3 linked regions of the Homo sapiens genome follow. The protein of the gene in region 2 interacts with the protein of the main gene of each other region in a pairwise test. Each region holds a gene or a part of one and is shown on either strand. Other genes may lie near its edges.

What was found. The genes of interacting proteins can lie anywhere in the genome.
Region 1: the proteins of ING5 (region 2) and GRIPAP1 interact in binary tests that used the Homo sapiens proteins (3 or more experiments, as listed by UniProt).
Region 3: the proteins of ING5 (region 2) and DEUP1 interact in binary tests that used the Homo sapiens proteins (3 or more experiments, as listed by UniProt).

What each region holds. Positions count from the first base shown.
Region 1 is NC_000023.11:48,992,238-48,999,264, forward strand, and holds part of GRIPAP1 (GRIP1-associated protein 1), read right to left. Parts: coding exon 7,001-7,027; intron 5,944-7,000; coding exon 5,917-5,943; intron 5,121-5,916; coding exon 5,013-5,120; intron 1,342-5,012; coding exon 1,191-1,341; intron 1-1,190. UniProt on the Homo sapiens protein: Regulates the endosomal recycling back to the neuronal plasma membrane, possibly by connecting early and late recycling endosomal domains and promoting segregation of recycling endosomes from early endosomal membranes.
Region 2 is NC_000002.12:241,705,039-241,712,065, reverse strand, and holds part of ING5 (inhibitor of growth protein 5), read right to left. Parts: intron 2,851-7,027; coding exon 2,684-2,850; intron 690-2,683; coding exon 578-689; intron 89-577; coding exon 1-88. UniProt on the Homo sapiens protein: Component of the HBO1 complex, which specifically mediates acetylation of histone H3 at 'Lys-14' (H3K14ac) and, to a lower extent, acetylation of histone H4. Component of the MOZ/MORF complex which has a histone H3 acetyltransferase activity.
Region 3 is NC_000011.10:93,333,742-93,340,768, reverse strand, and holds part of DEUP1 (deuterosome assembly protein 1), read right to left. Parts: intron 1-7,027. UniProt on the Homo sapiens protein: Key structural component of the deuterosome, a structure that promotes de novo centriole amplification in multiciliated cells.

The DNA of each region.
Region 1 (7,027 bases), on a different chromosome or scaffold from region 2:
TCAGGCGATCTGCCCACCTTGGCCTCCCAAAGTGCTAGGATTACAGGTGTGAAACACCGTGCCTGGCCTAATTATTTTATTTTTAGTACACACAAGTTCCTGCTATGTTGCCTAGGCTGGTCTTAAACTCCTAGCCTCAAGAGATCCTTCTGCCTCAGCCTCCCAGAGTGCTGGAATCAAGGTATGAGCCACTGTGCCCAGGCTCTCACAAATATTTTAAGCCCTATCAACCACTAAGATTCTGTTTACTATTAAATTAGCCCAAGCTGGTTTCACAAATCCCATTCTCAATCCTTGAAGCCCCACCCATAGCCCTTGAAGGCCATGCCCACCATATGCTACCACTGACTTACAGCTGAATCCCTCCTAGAGCCTCCTAATTCCTACTCACATTCTACTAAGTCTCCCTCCTGGTCATGGAACCAGCATCCATCACCACAGAAGTCCCAGCTGCTCTCCAAAGTTCCACACACCACATGCTCCCACACTCTATCAAGCTTTCTTTCAGCTTTCATCCCAGACCCCACTTACAATCTGGGCTCAGAATCTTCCCAACACTCCATTCACTTTTTCACTTAGCAAATATCTCCTTTTTTTTTTTGAGATGGAGTCTCGCTCTGTCGCCCAGGCTGGAGTGCAGTGGTGTGATCTCGGCTCACTGCAAGCTCCACCTCCCAGGTTCACACCATTCTCCTGCCTCAGCCTCCAGAGTAGCTGGGACTACAGGCGCCCGCCACCGTGCCCGGCCAATTTTCTGTATTTCTAGTAGAGACGGGGTTTCACCATGTTAGCCAGGATGGTCTTGATCTGCTGACCTCGCAATCCGCCCGCCTCAGCCTCCCAAAGTGCTGGGATTACAGGCGTGAGCCACCGCGCCCGGCCGCAAATATCTCCTTTTTGACATTCAAGCTGCTAATCTGTAACATCTGCTAGGTACCAGACACTGAACTAATGCAGAATGATATCACCTTTTATCTCTACTACAATCTTCTGGGTGACAGACATCACTACATGCACTGTGTAGATGATAAGGCTTTGGCTCAGAGAGGTGAAATGGCTTGTCCAAAGCCACACAGGGCATGGGCCAACCCTATTTCTGAAGCCCTTCTCCTTCCCCTGAGAGGATGACGGCCTTCCTTGCCCTACTCAAGCCCCAATGTCTCCGCATCCCCAGGAGGGCCTCTATGCACCTGCCACGTTCTTCTGCAAGGCTGTGTTTTCAGCCTGTAGCCTCAGCAGCTCCCCATCCACGAGGGGCCCAGCTTGGGCAACCCCTGCTCCTGCAGCCCCCTCCTTCAGTTGCTGGTTCTCTTGCTCCAGCTGTTCCATCTGGCTGCAGAGCTGAACAGAGGAAGAGAAGGGGCAGAGAAGCAGAGAATCAGAGCAGTATTTGCTGAAACCTACATAGCATTTGTCCATGTACTTTACAATTCACTTAATTCCCATAATGACCCTATGATATAGGTGCCCTCCCACTTTACAAATAAGGACATTGAGGCACAGAGATGTTAAACAAGTTCAAATTCACACATCTTTTAAGTGGCAGAGTCAGAGAATACCAAGAGCATACCAAGTATGAGGACACCAAAAACCATTTTCCTCTTCCTACTCCCAACCTCAGAGATGCAATCCAAGACCTCAGGCTCCTCTGGAAGTTGTTAGTGCTACAGACAGCCTCACTGCAACCCCTCTTCTGTGGAGGGCTGGATCCTGGGCCCAGAGATAGCTCCCTCTCATCCTAAGCACCACAAAGAGCTCGCAGGGCATTTCCAGGGCCAACACTGATGACAGCTCCTGCATTGCCAGCCGTTAGTCTTGGAGAGGTATACAATGCCAATACAACTAAGCCAGCCCCCTGCCCAACTCCTGGCTGAAGTACACTTCTCAAAGCAGTCCTGAGAAAATTCCTTGTCCCCATTTTCAGATGAGAATATCGAGGCCTACAGAGAATTTTTATTTTATTGCCTGCAATATTTTCTTTCTTTTTTTTTTTTTTTTTTTTTTGAGATGGAGTCTCGCTCTGTCACCCAGCCTGGAGTACAGTGGCACGATTTCAGCCCACTGCAACCTCCGCCACCCGGGTTCAAGTGATTCTCCTGCCTCAGCCTCCTGAGTAGCTGGGACTACAGGCATGCGCCACCGTGCCCGGCTAATTTTTGTATTCTTATTAGAGACGGGGTTTCGCCATGTTGGCCAGGCTGGTCTTGAACTCCTGACCTCAGGTGATCCACCTGCCTCGGCCTCCCAAAGTGCTGGGATTACAGGCATGAGCCACCGCACCCGGCCTGCTTGCAATATTTTCTACCCAGAACACCAATCCTCTCATCCAGTTCTTCACCTAACTGGCTTCTTTGCATCCCTCAGTGCTCTGCTCAGATGTTGCCTTTAAAGTAGTATCCCTCAACACAGAAAATTCCAGTACTCTCTGTCACAGCACTGTTCATTTCTTTCTTACCTAGTACTAATCAAAATTTTCTTTTGTAACAAGCACAGATTCTGAAACCAGACTGCTTGAATGTGAATTTCTGCTCTGCCATTTACTAGCTGTGTGACAAATTACTTAATCTCCCTGGAACTCAGTTTTCCTCATCTGTCAGATAGGGATACTAATATCTCATAGGCTTATTTCAAAGATTAAATGAGTGAATAATGTAGAGTACTTCAAACAGGACTTGGCACACAGTAAGCACCATATAAATGTCAGCTATCACTACTAGTATTATTTGTTTACTGTTATCATCTTTCTCCTCATCCCACCCCCAGAATGTAAGCTACCCAAGAGTGGAGATCATTCTGTGCTGCTTACAACTGTATTTCCAGAACATAGAGCATGTGGTGGGTACTCAGTAACTATTTGTCGAAGGAACAATTAAGCTGAAATGTCTTGATGAATAAGGGGTGGTGGCAGGTTTAACGTAGCTCTCTCTGAGAGCACTTCCAGTTCCTGGGAGGAGTTGGAGGAGGAAGGGGACTATGTAGGAAGTCTCTACGACTAGCCCAGTGCTGGCCCAGGGCAGATGCAGGGAAACAAGCTGGATTTATGGAAGAATGTCTGCCCCTGCCTCACTCTGCAAGAATCATGATACCATGGAGGCTGGAGGCAGGAAGCAGTGAGGAGTCAGTCAGTGAAGCCAGCAGTTATGTGAATACCAGGGGCTCTGAACTAGGAGCAGGACTGGGGCACTGGAATGTATTAAGTAAAGGAGTGATGTCATAAGATCTGCAGGTCAGAACAGCCTCTGTGGTGTGAACTAAGTAGAAGAAACTAGAAGTGAAGAGACCAGGGAGGCGGCTGTAGAAACAGCAGATGATAAGTGGTAGAGGCTAAGGCAAAGCAGGGCCACAGGGTGGATATAAAACTTTTTTTTTTTAAATTGAGACAGAGTCTTGCTCTGTCGCCCAGGCTGGAGTGCAGTGGTGCAATCTTGGCTCACTACAACCTCCGCCTCCCGGGTTCAAGCGATTCTCCTGCCTCAGCCTCCCGAGTAGCTGGGACTACAGGCACGTGCCACCACACCCGGCTAATTTTTTGTATTTTTAGTAGAGACGGGGTTTTACCACGTTAGCCAGGATGGTCTCCATCTCCTGACCTCATGATCTGCCTGCCTTGGCCTCCCAAAGTGCTGGGATTACAGGCCTGAGCCACCACGCCCGGCCATAAAACTTTTAAAAAGTCAAATATTTTAGAGGGAAGATGAGTTAATAGAAGGATAATATTATAACTAATGCTTCCATAGCTGATACTATGTGCAAGGCTCTGTTTTAAGTGATTTACGTACATTTATTCATTTAATCCTCACAAAAGCCCTGTGAAGAGGCAGGTACTGTTATTATCATGACTTCCATTTTAAACATTTGGGAACCAAGAACCAGGCAAGTTAAGTAACTTCCTCAAGGTTACAGTTAGTAAAAGGTAGAGCCAAGATTTTAATCTAGGCCTTCTGGTTCCAGAGTCCCTGCTGGTACCTACTACTTGCTCAACTGCCTCTCCTGGTATTGTACCTGCTTAAAGGTTATTTTCGGTTTTGTTTTTTTAAGGTCATAGGCACTATATTCTCAGATGGAGCCTTAGAAATACCATTTTTGGGCCGGGCGCGGTGGCTCACGCCTTTAATCCCAACACTTTGGGAGGCCAAGACGGGTGGATCACCTGAAGTCGGGAGTTCAGGACCAGCCTGACCAACATGGTCATTTTCTCTACTAAATGTCCTCTCCCACCCATGTCATTTTCTCTCATCTCTACTAAAAATACAAAGTTAGCCAGGCATGGTGGCATATGCCTGTACTTCCAGCTACTTGGGAGGCTGAGGCAGGAGAATCGCTTGAACCCAGGAGGCAGAGGTTGCAGTGAGCTGAGATCATGCCATTGCACTCCAGCCTGGACAATGAGAGTGAAACTCCATCTCAAAAAAATTTGCTGCCATGAGACTTTTTTCCTTAAAACACACTAAAAACATAGACAATTATCAACTGTGGATACAGAAGATAGATGAGGGAACAAAAGACAATGTCTCCAACTGCCCAGTAGATTTAGAAACAGACAGGACACTAAAATCAATGGGGAGATAGAATTAGTAGCTCCAGGATGAATTATCTGGAAGAGGTAGAACCCCAGGCTCATGTCAGATGAAGAGAAGAAAGAGAAAAGGGAAGAAGCTCGAACACTTTTCCATCCTATATTAAGCATAAGAACTCTGCCTAAAACCCCCCAACACCTTGGAGCACCACAGCATCAACCCCACATTATACACATGGAGACTTGAAGCTCAAATAAAAGGAGTGACTTGGCCAGGAACCAGGTGACCTCAGGGCTCAAAGCCTTCTAATCCCAGCAGAGTGAGCGGCCCCATCTGTCAAATTACTGCCCCCCAGCAGCAATCCAGGACCTGTTTCAGCACCACGGACAGTGCTCCAGGGCCAGACCCTGTCCAATCACTCTCTGCCGCTGTTAGGTTTCAGCCCAGATGACCCCTACCCCTCATTTCCCCTTTGACTATCCCAGGCACCAGCACCTTGCTGAACTCGGCCATTAGTGTGCTGTTCTGCAAACGGAAGTCCTCCTCCTGGCTGTGCAGCTTTGCCTGCAGCATCTCATTTTCACTCAGCAATACCTCGACTTCCTGCAGTGGCAGACAAGGGCCAGGACTCCAGCAAGGGCAAAAAGGATAGGGAGGTAGGGCAAAGAAACAGAGAGAGGGAGAAAATGACATGGGTGGGAGAGGACATAGGGTACAGAGAATGAGGTGATATAGGAGAAAGAGACATGGGGAGGGATAAAATGAGAGACAGGGAAAGGAAGATAAAGACATGGGAAGGTAGAGAGAAGGGAATACAGGGAGGAAGAGAGCGGAGGAAAAGACAGGAAGATAATGATTGGGGAGAGAGGAAGTAGAGATGGGGAAAGGGGGAGAGATAGAAAAGGGGAGAGGGATTGGGAGGGAGAGAGTGAAAAAGACGGAGAGAAGAACAAACAGAAATCAACAGGGAGAGAACAGAACAGGGAGAAGAGGAGGGGTCAGGAAAAGAAATGAGTTAGGAAGAGAGAGGAATGGGGTGGAAGAAACAAGGAGTTAGAGAGAGAAAGCAGAAAAAAGAGAAATCACCGAGACAGGAACAGGAGGGGGAGAGACAAAGAGAAGATTGGGAAGAGAAATGAGTCAGAGAGACAGGAACAGGAAAACAGACAGAGACAGAAAGAGACTCAGAGAAAAGAATGGAAAGAGAGAGAAGGAAAGAGACACAGAGTTAGGACAAATACAGGGAAACAAGGACAGATACAGCAACACATGGCAGTGAGGTAGTAGCAGATGTAAAGGCACACAAAGAAAGAAAGGCCAGTACAAGGAAATATCAGCATACAGAAATAGCCCACCAAGACATCTCCCAGTCACACTCACCCACAAGGGATCCCCTTACCTGAGCTTTCTTGCTCTTGCTCAGTGCCTAAAGTGGGGGTGGGTGGGAAGAGAGCTAAAGTGAACAGAGATGGACTGCCTTACTAGGATATGGAGACAATTGTGCCAAGCGTTTTGGGAGGACAAGGATGACAGGGGTTGCAGGATGGGAGCATCTTCAACCACAGAACATGTGTGACAATTTGGAGCCCAAAGGAATGATGGAATGAGTGTGTGAGTGAGTGAATGAATGCAAGTCTTGCCCTGGGGCCCCAGCACACATAAATCATCCTTTCTTGGAAGCTCTTGAGGCTGGTGGGGGGACAGGGGAGGTAGGGAGATGCCCTGGTATTTAACCATTTATGGGCTGGATCTCCAGACTCAGAAACTGTGGCTTCATTGCTACATCTGTCCATACATGTCTCTGTGGGTCCCTCCCACGCAGTGTGGAAACTGTCGCTCCCCTACTGGGCAGCCAAGAGCATTGCCAGCTTAGGGGAATCAGCATCCTACCAAAGAGAAGTGCAGCTTCCTGACTGTCGGATTTTCTGCATACTGTATTCGTTCATCCAACAAATATTTATTGAGCACATATTATGTATTAACATTGTGCTAGGTATGGCTAGATATGGGGACAGAGCAGTGACAAAGGAGCACCTCGAATGTCTTGAGGGGCCACAATAGGTTATATCCTATCTCATCTTTAGAGGATCTGAGAGGTGGGTTTGCTCTCATTTTCCCAACTGGACCAGGACAGAGATGGGAAGTAGGAGCACAAGGCAGGAGTGTGAGTAGAGGATGGGAGGCAGATTCGAGGTAGATTTACTGATAGATTTGAATATTTAATTAAAAGTCAGTGAATGAGAATGAGTAACTGAAATTAGAAATGAATTAAAAGTAAATTAAAATTAATCACTAAATTAAGCAGGATTAGGTAAAATTAGCAACTAAAGAGAATTCCATTGAGAATCCTTTAAATGACTACGTGAAAACAGCATGCAACATTAGGTCTGGTTCACTGTAGGTGCTCACTGGAGGGATGAATGAGTCAGATAGGTAGAAGCAAGGGTGGATGGGTAGGTGGATGGGTGGGTGGAGGGAGGTACCTTCTGAGCTTTGCTGAACTCCTTATC
Region 2 (7,027 bases):
TTGTGCTTCTTTTTCTTTGGTGTGTCTTCCTCTGATGTCCTCCTGCCTCGGCCCCGGGACCCTCTTTTTTCTTTCTGACCCCGGCCTTCTGAAAAATAATCAAGATGCAAATTATTTTTATAGAATTCTCTAAAGCAAGGCAAGTTTTGTGTTTTGTTTTTAAAAAGGGGTCTCGCTCTGTCTCCCAGGCTGGCTGGAGTGCAGCGGAGCAATCATAGCTCACCGCAGCCTTGACCTCCCGGGCTCAAGCAATCCACCCACCTCAGCCTCCCGAGTAGCTGGGACCACAGGTGTGCACCACCACACCTGGCTAATTTTTAAATTTTTTGTTGAGATGAGGTCTCGCTATGTTGCCCAGGTTGGTCTCAAACTCCTAGCCTCAAGTGATCCTCCTGCCTCAGCCTCCCAAAGTGCTGGGGTTACAGGCGTAAGCCACCACACCCAGCCTGCAAGACAAGGTTTACCCAAATATGATACTTACCCTAGTGATCATACTTTAATGATTTACCGTGACAAAACTCTTCAAAACTCCATAGTTAACAGTAATAAAATAAAGAAAAAAAATTAACAGACTTGCTTTTTAACCCTCGCCCTCCGGAGCTTTCAAAATCACTGCCCTCCATCTTGTCCTTCAGATCTGCTTCAAAGCGCGCCAGGTCTGCATCAAGCCTTCGAATGTGTTTATCCACCTACAAAAGGATACCCAAAGTCTTATTTTAAAGTAAAACCAAAACACCTCAGAATCACGAATGTACAAAAGTATCCACCAGGAAACACCTTCTTGCCCTTTAATTGAGTCTCCAATGAACAAACCTCTGCTAAAACAAGGCCCACTATTTCAAAGTCCATGCAAGGGTCTTGTGCTTTTTCTGCATATTTTGACATTGCAATGGAATAAATCCCATTTAGGGAAAAGACATGAGTGTGGGCAATAATGAGAAGCAGAGTTGTGAAATGCAGTGAACAAGGCCTGGGATATCTGACGCTGAACCCTACTTTAAAATATGGCTACCTGGAGGCCAGGTGCAGCGGCTCACACCTGTAATCCCAGCACTTTGGGAGGTCGAGGCAGTCTGATCACCTGAGGTCAGGAGTTCAAAACCAGCCTGACCAACATGGTAAAATCCCATCTCTAAAATAAATACAAAAATTAGGGCAGGCGCGGTGGCTCACGCCTGTAGTCCCAGCACTCTGGGAGACCGAGGCAGGTGGATCATTTGAGGTCAGGAATTCAAGACCAGCCTGGCCAACATGGCAAAACCCCATCTCTATTAAAAATACAGGCCAGGCACGGTGGCTCATACCTGTAATCCCAGCACTTTGGGAGGCTGAGGCAGGTCAATCACCTGAGGTCGGGAGTTCAGGACCAGCCTGACCAACATGGAGCAACCCCATCTCTACCAAAAATACAAAATTAGCCGGGCTTGGTGGCGCATGCCTGTAATCCCAGCTACTCAGGAGGCTGAAGCCGGAGAATCGCTTGAACCCAGGAGGCAGAGGTTGCAGTGAGCCAAGATCGTGGCATTGCACTCCAGCCTGAGCAACAAGAGCGAAGCTCTGTCTCAAAAAAAAAAACCAAAAACCAAAAACAAAAATTAGCCTGTTGGTAGTGGTGCACACCTGTAATCCCAGCTACTTAGGAGGCTGAGGCAGGAGAATCGCTTGAGCCTGGGAAGTGGAGGTTGCACTGAACTGCAGCCATGCCACTGCACCCTAGTCTGGGCGACACAGTGAGGCCCTGTCTCAAAAACTAAATAAATAATACAAAAATAAAAAAATAAAACTACAAAAATTAGCCAGGCTTCGTGGTGGGTGACTGTAATCCTAGCTACTCAGGAGGCTGAGGCAGGAGAATTGCTTGAACCTGCGAGGCACAGGTTGCAGTGAGCCGAGATAGCACCATTGCACTCCAGCCTGGGCAACAAGAGCAAAAGTCCATCTCAAAAATAATAATAATAATAAAGTATGGCTACTGCATGCCTGTAATCTCAGCTACTCGGGAGACTGAGGCAGGAGAATCGCTTAAACCCAGGAGGTGGAGGTTGCAGTGAGCCGTGATCACACCACTGCACTCCAGCCTGGGCGACAGAGCAAGACTCTGTCTCAAAAATAAATAAATAAATAAAATAAATAAATAAAATAAAATATGGCCACCTGGAGGTCGGGCACGGTGGCTCATGCCTGTAATCTCAGTATTTTGGGAGGCTGAGGCGAGTGGATCACTTGAAGTCAGGAGTTCGAGACCAGCATGGCCAACAGGGTGAAACCCCGTCTCTTCTAAAAATATAAAAATTAGCTGGGTGTGGTGCTGCATGCCTGTAATCACAGCTACTAGGGAGGCTAAGGCACAAGAATCACTTGAGCCTAGGAGGCGGAGGTTGCACTGAGCTGAAATCACACCACTGTACTCCACCGTGGACGACAAAGTGAGACTGTCTCAAAAAAAACCCAAATGGTTCCTCCGAGCAGATACACAAACAAAAAGGGCCCAGAAAAAAAAAAAAAAAAAACAGGGATGGTCCTACATGAAGTGTATTCCGTCTGCACTTCCTCCAGCAGCGTCAGCTACCAAAGCCAGCCTTCCACTTGGCTATGCCCATTTCCGGGCAGTTTTTACATTTTGTTGCATGAGAGGCAGGAGTAGAGGTCAGAGGAAGAGCCATGGCCCCCGCCCCGCCCTCACCATCTCGTAGGTCTGCATGGCCAGCTGCACTTTGTCGTCACTGTATTCCTTGCACTTGCTGTAGGCGTTCTGGATCTTCTGCAGGCGCTCCACGCGCTGGTCTGGAGACAGCGTCTTCACCGTGGAGATGTACTCTGCAGCCAGGATGTCAATCTCTGCTTTCTTATCTGATGGAGAAATGGGGGAAAAGCTAGCCCTGCACAAGACACCATGATGTGCTCACCAGACTGGCAACAACTAAAGTCAGCCAACGCCAAGTTGTGGCAAAGATGTAGGCTGACATGAACTCACGCTGTGCTGGTGGGAGCGCAAGTGGGCAGAACCGTTCTGCACAAACAGTCTGGGATCGTGTGAATGTGCAGACTTTACGGCAACGTGCCCAGGACAGTCCCAGCTCTGAATGTTACACAGCAAGTGGTCACAGTGCCTTCTTCGACTCTCAAACATCCTGTATGAATAACTTGTAGCCACCTTTCCTATGACCTGGCATACTACTCTTTTTTCCCTTTTCTTTTTTTCCGGTAGAGCAGTCAAGAAAGAACACACTACTCTTAAATACCCTAAACAAACCTTATGTCACCTAAAGAAATCCACACGGGAAACATTCATAAGAGCAGAAAACAGAAAACAACCCCAATGTCCAATCCTCAGTAAAATGGAGAAATAAGCTGTGGTCCCTTCAGACAACAGAGTGCTACTCAGCAACAAAAAGAGCAAACTACAGCCACACACAGCAACACGGATGATTCCCAGAGAAGGTGACACGGAGCAAAAAGAGCAAGAAACAAAAGAAAACATACTGGATGATTCCATTAATATGAAGAGCAGAAACAGACACAACTCTTAACCCTTCAGTTTAGAGGGGTAAGAAAACTAGGCCAGGCGTGGTGGCTCACGCCTGTAATCCCAGCACTTTTGGAGGCCGAGGCGGGCAGATCACGAGGTCAGGAGATCGAGACCATCCTGGCTAACTTGATGAAACCCCGTCTCTACTAAAAATACAAAAAATTAGCCGGGCGTGGTGGCGGGTGCCTATAGTCCCAGCTACTCGGGAGGCTGAGGCAGGAGAATGGCGTGAACCCAGGAGGCGGGGCTTGAAGAAAGCCAAGATAGCGCCACTGCAGTCCGGCCTGGGCGAAAGAGTGAGACTCCATCTCAAAAAAAAAAAACAAAAGAAAACTGTTGAAGGCCATGCACGGCGGCTCACGCCTGTGATCCCAGCACTTTGGGAGGCCAAGGCAGGAGGATCACGAGGTTAAGAGATGGAAACCATCCTGGCCAATGTGGTGAAACCCCGTCTCTTCTAAAAATACAACAATTAGCTGGGCATGGTGTTACGTGCCTATGGTCCCAGCTACTCAGGAGGCTGAGGCAGGAGAATCACTTGCACCCAGGAGGCAGAGGTTGCAGTGAGCCGAGACCGTGCCACTGCACTCCAGCCTGATGGTAAAGCGAGACTCCGTCTCAGAAAAAAAAAAGAAAACTACTGTTAAAGGTGGAAGGTGACTGTCACCAAACTCAGGATGGTCACCCCTTGGTTGGGGAGGGGTGTCATGACTAGGAGGGTCACAAAGGCCTTCAGGTGCCAAAGGGCTTGATTTCTCCATCTCGGTAGCAGACAACAGAGAGGTTCACCTGGTAATATTTGTTAAGCAATCTATAATTGTTGCACATTCATTTCCTGAATATATGTTACATTTCACAATAAAATAACTCTCTGTATTCCCTAGTCAAGATGCTGTACCTAAGGAAAAAAACACAGCTATCTCAGTCTTGCAAAACATGTGCCCAGGCCGGGTGTGGTACTCACGTCTGTAATCCCAGCACTTTGGGAGGCCAAGGCGGGTGGATGAACCTGAGGTCAGGAGTTCAAGACCAGCCTGACCAACATGGAGAAACCCCGTCTCTACTTAAAATACAAAAAATTAGCAGGGTGTGGTGGCGCATGCCTGTAATCCCAGCTACTCGGGAGGCTGAGGCAGGAGAATTGCTTGAACCCGGGAGGCGGAGGTTGCGGTGAGCTGAGATCGTGCCATTGCACTCCAGCCTGGACAACAAGAGCGAAACTCCATCTCAAAACAAAAAAAACAAACCTGTGCCCAGCATAATGAATAAAAAATCTCAGGCCAGGCACAGTGGCTCACACCTGTAATACCAGCACTTTGGGAGGCCAAGGCGGGCAGATCACCTGAGGTTGAGAGTTTGAGACCAACCTGATCAACATGGAGAAACCCCATCTCTATTAAAAATACAAAATTAGCTGGGCATGATGGTGCATGCCTGTAATCCCAGCTACTCGGGAGGCTGAGGCAGGAGAATCACTTGAACCTGGGAGGCAGAGGTTGTGTTGAGCCAAGATCGCGCCATCGCACGCCAGCCTGGGCAACAAGAGTGAAACTCCATCTCAAAAAAAAAAAAAAAAAAAATTGCCACACCAAAACACATTATCATGAAATTTAAAACTTCAGAGATAAAGGAAACATCTCAAAAGCTTCTGAATAGGAATAACAAAAAAAAAATAGATCACACATATAAAGGACCAAGAATCCAAACGGCACCAGATTTTCTGCAGCAACGTGGAAGCTAGGAGACAAGGCAGCAATGTCGCCAACTTCCTGAGTGAAAACAATTGTCAACCTAGGATTCTATACCCAACCAAACTATCAGCTGAGTATGAGGCTAGAACAAACACATTTTCAGACATGCAATGTTACAAGAAAATCTACCTTCCTTTTTTTCTTTTTTTTTTTTTTTTTTGAGATGGAGTTTCGCTCTTGTTGCCCAGGGTGGAGTGCAATGGTGCGATCTCCAGGTGCAACCTCCGCCTCCAGGTTCAAGTGATTCTCCTGCCTCAGCCTCCCAATTAGCTGGGATTATAGGCGTGCGCCACCACACCCGGCTAATTTTGTATTTTTAGTAGAGACGGGGTTTCTCCATGTCGATCAGGCTGGTCTCGAACTCCTGACCTCAGGTGATCTGCCCACCTCAGCCTCCCAAAGTGCTGGGATTACAGGCATGAGCCACCGTGCCTGGCCAAGAAAATCTACCTTCCTATGTGCCTTTTTTTCAGGAACCTACCAAAGGAAAGGCTCTATCAAAACAGGAGAGCAAGGGCAAAAAGAAGACATTTAAGATTCAGGGAAGAGGGTCCCACACTGAAGAGGGGTGAAAGGAGATCCCAGGAAAACCTCAGGGCAACAAGTGTGCAGTTGGCATGGAAACAATCAGGACTGTGGCCTCCAGGACAGAGGGCTCTGCGGAAAGAAAGCACACACAGAACTGTCAGGGTAGACAGCCTGACAGACCACAAGGAAAAGCCCAGCTGGGGAGACAAGGGTCGAATGCAGAAAACAAAGCCAACAAACAGGGCCATGAGTAACTCTAAGAAATACACAAAGTTATTCCAAAGAGGTCATATAAGCACAGCAGGTGGCATGGCTCAGTGTTAAAGTACCTACACAGCTGCCCAATGGAAGTCCCATCACTGGTCTCACCACAAATTCTAACAACCTACAGCCAGGAGATGGGGGAGCCAGGTGAGGGCATGTGAGGGTGTGGGGGCCACTGGAGAAGTACAGCTGCCTGTGCCATATACGTCTGAACAACGTCTAAAACTGACGAGAGATAAAATAAGAAACAGCAACAAAAACATGTTGTTTAGAAACAGGGAGTTTAAGGGCCGGGCGCGGTGGCTCATGCCTGTAATCCCAGCACTTTGGGAGGCCTAGGCAGGCGGATCATGAGGTCAGTAGATCAAGACCATCCTGGCTAACATGGTGAACATGGTGAAACCCTGTCTCTACTAAAAATACAAAAAATTAGCTGGGTGTGGTGGCATGTGACTGTAGTCCCAGCTACTCGGGAGGCTGAGGCAGGAGAATCACTTGAACCCGGGAGGTGGAGGTTGCAGTGAGCCAAGATCGTGCCACTGCACTCTAGCCTGGGCAACAGAGTGAGACTCTGTCTCAAAAAAAAAAAAAAAAAAAAAGAAAAAAACAGAGTTAGGGCCAGGCGAGGTGGCTCACGCTTGTAATCCCAGCACTTTGGGAGGCTGAGGCGGGCAGATCATGAGGTGAGGAGATCAAGACCATCCTGGCTAACACGGTGAAACCCCGTCTCTACTAAAAATACAAAAAAAAAATTAGCCAGGCGTGGTGGCGGGCACCTGTAGTCCCAGCTACTCAGGAGGCTGAGGCAAGAGAATGGTGTGAACCCAGGAGGCAGAGCTTGCAGTGAGCTGAGATCACGTCACTGCACTCCGGACTGGGCGACAAAGCAAGACTCCGTCTCAAAAAAAAAGAAACGGAGTTAAATATCAAACGGCCAAAAAGTACTACCAAACTT
Region 3 (7,027 bases), on a different chromosome or scaffold from region 2:
ACCATCCTTTGTTCATCATCTTCTCACACACTCCATATCCAATCCAGGATCTATAACATTGTCAGCTATTTCATGAAAACAAACCCATTTGTCACTATGTCTACATCTATCAATCTGATCTACTGTCATCTCCCACAGCTTAGCTTGTCTGCCTTTTCAACCCTTACCCTCCTATGGTCTATTCTTCCCATAGCAACTAGAGCGAGCCTTTTAAAATATTAAGTCAGAAAATGTCACTCCCTTGCTCAGAGTCCTCCAGTGACTTCCCATTTTACACAGTGAAATCTGAAGCCTTGACTAAGGTCTGTGAGGCCCTTCAGGACTTGGCCCTATTTGCCTTTCTGAGGTCATCTCCTACCACTTTCCCCCTTGCTTCCTCCTCTCTAACTGGCCTCTTTTCTGTTCCTTGAAAACGTCAATCATGTTCCTGTTGCAGAAGCTTTGCTTTTGCTGATTCCTCTGCCTGGAATGCCATTCCCCCAGATATCCAGATGTCTACATCTCTCACTTTTTTTAGGTCTTTCTTCAAATGTCACCTAACCAGATTTACTCTGTAACTCTCTATTCTCATAATCTGCTTACTTTTTCTACATAGTGATTATTACCACCCCCAACATAATATAGATTTATTTATTTGCTATAATCTGTTTCCCTCCACTAGACTGTAAGCTCCAATGAGGTCTCTGATACCATCGCAGAGCCATAGTATCAGCTCTAAATTTCCCACCTCCAGAAAAATAGGAACCCTAATTTGCTTGGGTATTATATTACGAGCTTCTGGTTTTTATTTGAATTTTGTGTTTTAGCAGACCCCTTCTGACAATACTCCAGCAGGGGAATAGAATGCCACCTCATTACTGCCAGACAGTGGTGGAAGTTCAGGTTCTCGACTCAGCCTCTGTTGCCACTTGGAGGGAGGAACTCCTCATTACTGCTGGGTGGGGGTGACAGTTCAGGCCCCTAGTAGCTCTGCACTGATACCACCTTGGCTGGGACGGGTAGGGATGCCTCATTACTCTTTCCTACGTGGCCTCCTCCGACACTGTGTAAGGTGGGTTCCCTCGTTATCATTACCACTCAAAGTGTCTTGCGTTCCTTTGCTATGGTAAGTCTCCCTTGGGGTTGTTGGTGATTTGAGGCAAGATTTGGATATTCCTGAGTCCCTGGGCCATTGCACCAATTATGCCTCATATGCCACCTGTTTCTAATATAAATGGATAGCCTCTATGGGTAATTTGACTAGCTGTCCTTTATAAGCCAGCTCTTTTGTTGATTCATCTTTTTATTTTCCTATTCTTGAACCATTTTAAGTAGTGTATAACTTGAAGATTTATAAGATTAGCATAAAGTATTTGCATTTTCCCCTTTCTCCTTTTTAGAGAAAATTTGGAAACCATTTCATTGCATGGATTGTATAGTGCACCTAGCTGTGTGCTGCTCATCTTGTACTCTAGCATTTGTACAGATTATAGGTATAGTTACTCCACGGCACTATGGGTTGGCCAGTGGATTTCCCCATAAATGGCTATGCCATATATGTTTGTGCTTTAATATGGCAACATGTGAAACATATTTCTGTCATTCTATAACACTTTCTATTATAAGAAGCAACAATAACTTAATAATTGCTTTTAGAGGAAACAGGGAATAATAGCCAAATGTATCTTCTGATTTCAAGACACAACCTAACTTAAATAACATTTAAGGGTGAAAACTGTGAGTCTTAGTATGTTACCCTTGGAGAGTCCATGAAAGCACATGGGTATGTTTTGTCCCTGGCTGAAGCCATTCCTATGTAACCATTCCCCATACATTCTCCAATTAAAAAGGCAAGTCCTCAATACCCCAAGTGTATCTATGAAAATAGTCCTGGATTCTCTTCATTTTTTCACACCCTGCTTTTATACAACCTCATTTCTATCTAATTCTGAACTCTTGATTCAACTCTTCTCTAGTCTTTTGAAATTGGTATTTATATTTTATTTCCCTGTTGTTTGACAGTTTATTGCCTTTAATAAGCTGTCATTCTTTCAGTTCACTCATTCATTCAACAAATGTTGACTGAGCTGGGAGCAGTGGTTCATGCCTGTAATTCTAGCACTTTGGGAGGCCAAAGTGGGAGGATTGCTTGAGTCCAGGAGTTCAAAACCAACCTAGGCAACATAGTGAGACCCTACCACTACAAAAAACAAAACAAAAAGATTGCCAGTCTTGGTGGTGTGTACCTCCCAGCTACTCAGGAGGCTGAGGTGGAGGATTGCTTGAGCCCAGGAGGCTGACATTGCAGGAAGCCAAGATCACACCACTGTACTCCAGCCTGGGTGACAGAGCAAGACCCTGCCTCAGGAAAAAAAAAAAAAAAAAGTTGACTGCATAATTACCCTATGTCAGGCACTGTGCTTGTCCCTGTGGTGTGACAGAAGAGAAGACAAAACATTGCTGAACAGAGCTAGGGCCCCTGGAATACGCTGGCCTATAGTGTTATAGGACCAACTTCTTAACGTTCTTATTACCACTGATACTTGTGTTGCTACTTCTCTTGCCAGCTTTTCTATTTTTGTCTCTATTTCTCCTTTTCCTTCTGCTTCTTGAGTTCAAGGAGGGTACAACTTTTATACTAACTGCTGTCCAATGAGACTGCTTCTTTCTTTTGGGGAGAGAACAAACGCACTCATCACATATCTGTAATATTCATGTTTTTAGCACTTCTCTGTTTCACCAGTGCTCTGATTAGAGGCTCACAAAGTCCCAGGTGGTTCCAAGGTGCCATACAACTAAGCACCATAGACAACCAGGTCAGGTTAGGTGGGATGCACCTGATGTACATATCTACATTCACACATATCAGATTTTTAAGAAAATGTATGTTGTAACTAATCTTTTGTAAAGATTTTCCTGTGAAACGTATGTGCAAATTTATCCTACACAGTGGTACTTTTTCATCTTTCCTTAAACTTACTAGCAGTTTGATTAGGTCTCTTGTAGAAATCTTCCCTTTCTTTCCTTATTTCCTTCCTCCCTCTCTCTCCTTCCTAATAACTTTCCTTCCTTTCAAAAACATGCATTTAATTCCTACAGTCACTCAGCACTGCTAACATTTCAGAGTCTACCGTCAAGTTTGACATGTCAGGATTTTAACCCAGATGTACTTTACTTTGTTTCTTCTTCAGAGATACAAGAAACTGGAAGAACTTGTCCAGTTTGATTACTCTGGGGAGGAATATACGTGTATATGGGGGGAGGTGAATAAAGTATGAAGAGAGGGAGAGTAAGGGGGTACAGTCTGGGCTAACCAGAAAGCAAGGGAATTAACCAAATTTAAAAAGAATTTTCAATGTGCAAAAATAATATATAATTTATTCAGGTACCAATATGTTGACTTACATCAGAAAAATTAGATTTTATTTTATAAACTGTAATTAAAACTGTGTTTAACTCATCAAGAACCTGGTAAGTAAAGTTATGATTCATAAAGTCAAGAACCTGGTAAGTAAAGTAAAGATGATTAATATATCTCAGAGGGAAAGAATACTTTAAGGGTTAAGAAAGATGCACACAAAAAGAGTATAGTTTTAAAGGACCTTTTGAATCAGATGCAAGAAGTTATGATTTAATATTCATCTACCTTGGTTCTTTGAAAATAATGACTTTCACAGCAGATAAGAAGAATCTGGTGGATCACGTAGCAGTACCTAGATGTTTAGGAAGCATTTGACAAGATTCTATGAATGAGATCAATGGCTAAGATAAAAGTCACAGAATAAAAGGTACAGTAAAAGATTCAGTAGAGAAAAATGAGAATTTGGTTGAAGATGTATGCACACACATTTTGTTCCCTCCCCAAATCCTACTAACACAAAGTAAAGGGATATTTTTAACCTAGAAGGTCAAACCTAGAAGGATAAAAATAACAGGAACTAGCAGTGGACAAAGCCAAGTAGCAAACCAACTAGATACATCTGGAAGTAGCAAGTGAGTGTCAGCCTGAAAACAGGAGGAATGGCTAAGAAGGGGTTGACTCCTAGATCTCCTCACTGGCATTCGAATCCAGGCATATTCTCTGGAGAAGCTAAAACAGAAAGGCTCTGGACTGGGGTTGGGGAACACCAGGTACAGTAGATGGCAGGACCACTGTACTGGAAACTGGGGGGGTTAAGGTCAACAATGTAAGTCTGAATTCAGCCCCCTCATCCTTTTCAGCTCCCAGAATGCTGGTATACTCTCCAGGTAGGAAATTAGAATTCTCTGGAATCTGATTAGCCTGAGACAAAAGACTGAAAGAGAGTGACCTGGGGTCCTGCAAGGAAACTGCCTAGTCTGATGACTATGGAGTAAAGACCACTGTCAATAAGCCCGCTGATATGGTTGGCTCTGTGTCCCTAACCAAATCTCATGTCGAATTGTAATTCCCAGTGTTGGAGGAGGGGCCTGGTGAGAGGTGACTGAATCATGAGGGCGAACTTCCCCCTTGTTGTTCTTGTGATAGTGAGTTCTCAGGAGATGCAACTCCCCCCTTCTCTCTCTCTCCCTCCTGCTCTGGCCACATAAAACATGCCTCCTTCCTCTTCGCCTTCTGCCATGATTGTAAGTTTCCTGAGGTCTCCCCAGCTATGCTTCCTATTTGTTTTTTGGGTTTTGTTTTTTGTTTTTGTTTTGAGATGGAGTTTTGTTCTTGTTGCCCAGGCTGGAGTGGAATGGCACAATCTCGGCTCACTGCAACTTCCGCCTCCCGGGTTCAAATGATTCTCCTGCCTCAGCCTCCTGAGTAGCTGGTATTACAGGCATGCACCACCACACCAGGCTAATTTTTATTTTTAGTAGAGACGGGGTTTCTCCATGTTCGTCAGGCTGGTCTTGAACTCCCAACCTCAGGTGATCCACCTGCCTTGGCTTCCCAAAGTGCTGGGATTACAGGCGTCAGCCACTGCACCTGGCCTCTATTTGTTAATCTAACCATATGCTATTTATATGTGGAGAAAAACTTGATATGACCTAAAAAAGGTTGAAAACAAGGTGATGAACAAAGATATTATTGATTAAAGTAAACTAAAAAGAAAGCAGGGATGGTAATATTAATATCAGGCAAAGTAGAATTAAAACAGAAAACATTAGTTTATACTTGTGCTATATTTTATAATGTTAATCATATAATATGCTGAGAAGATATACGCATAAACCTTGACACATCAAGCAACAGAACACTGAAATATGTAAACCAAAAATTGTTAGTAATACAAGAAGGACTAGACAAACTACAATTATAGTGAAGATCTTCCTTAGAATTTGACAGATCAAATAAACAAAAATTAATGTAACTGTACTTGAAAAACACAAGTTAAACATAATAACAACAATTAAAATGTTTGATTATATAACTTTTTTAGCCTTTTTACTCAACCAAAAGAGAACATACATGTGTTTTCAAATACCCAAAGGACATTAATAAAAGTTGATCCTGCAATAGACTACAAGAATAATCTTAGTGAAATTGACAGAGTCAAAATCATATAGTCCATATCCTATGACTATGACAGTAGAAAGATTAAAAAGTAATAATAAAAAGATAACTAAATGCCCCTTGAAATTACATTTTGTAAATATCTCTTGAGTCAAAGAAGATATCAAATTTGAAATGATAGATTATTTAGAAAATGATGGTGAGAACACTAACCCTATGGCAGGCAGCAAAGCTGTGCTCAGGAGGAAACTTACATGCTTTTATTATTTAAAGAAATCATGAAATCCAGAAATCATGAAAATAACTGAAGCACATTTTTCAACCCATGGGAACAAGATAGAATAAACCATAAAAGGGAAAACTAGTAAGTAGAAATTCATGAATAAGAAAACAAAAACAAAGCAAAACCTAGAGAAGGTTTTCTTAAAAAGGCCAATAAAAGGGATCACTTATTCTATAATTATGTTCTGGAAACACACTTTAAAAACAAAAAGAACAAACATAAAATTGAGTTTCAATTACAAGGAGTTTAGATTATTATGGCACAAATACAAACACCTATAATTGGAAGAAATCATGGATAAATTAACATCAAACCCGGTTATAACCATGATATCAGAGAATATTGATTCACTCACACTGAAAATGTTCTGTGGGAAAGCTCCCACCATAGGCCTTGGCACTTTCTGCTCCTGCTCTGTGTAATCTTTTCCCCAGATATAATCTCTGCTCGAATGCTGCCTTACCAAAGTATCTTTATTTGACCACTCCATTCACACTCTCTATTTTTCCCACCCTTAGCCTGCTTTATTTTTCTTCATATCACCATATGATACAAATTTATACGTTTATTATCTGTCTCTTCCACTATGGTATAAGCCCCTTGAGAAGAAGTTGTCTATTTTGTTCACTGCTACCTTCCTGGTGCCTAGACCAGTAAGTAGCTCACAGTAGACTCTAAATAGGTATCTGTTAAATGTAGGCTGCTCCACAAAACATTACTGTATATGTAGATGACATGGTTTAATAAGCTACATAACAAGTCCCTGATGATGAAGTTTTATTGTATTCATGATCTAGATTTATACATAACTCTCAATAGCATGTGGGACTGAGGCAATGCCAACCTGGGGTCTCCATGCTTTGGAGACCGTGGTAGGCAGTGTGTGGACCCATGTCTACTGTGATGAGTGGAACAGTACCTCAGGAAAACCTCTAAAAACTCTCATTAACTTGGGGGGTTGTAATTACACCATACCCAAACAAGTTCTACTGTTCCTTACTAAATTCTAAGTTCTTTAAAGACAAGGTCTGTTTCTTAAATGACTCCATGGCCTTGGATTTGTAGGAGTGAAGTGATATCTGGGACCCAACCTTAGGTTCAACATCTTCAATCTGCATCTTAGCTCTTAGTGCTATCATCACACCAGGGACCCAACACATACTTAACCCAGAATCCTAACCTGGCTCTGCTATGGATACCAGGCAGGCTGCTCCCTGCATCTCATTGCCATCCATTTCCAATGTAGGAAGGAACACAGGGATTGGAGCCAGGCATACCTGAATTCA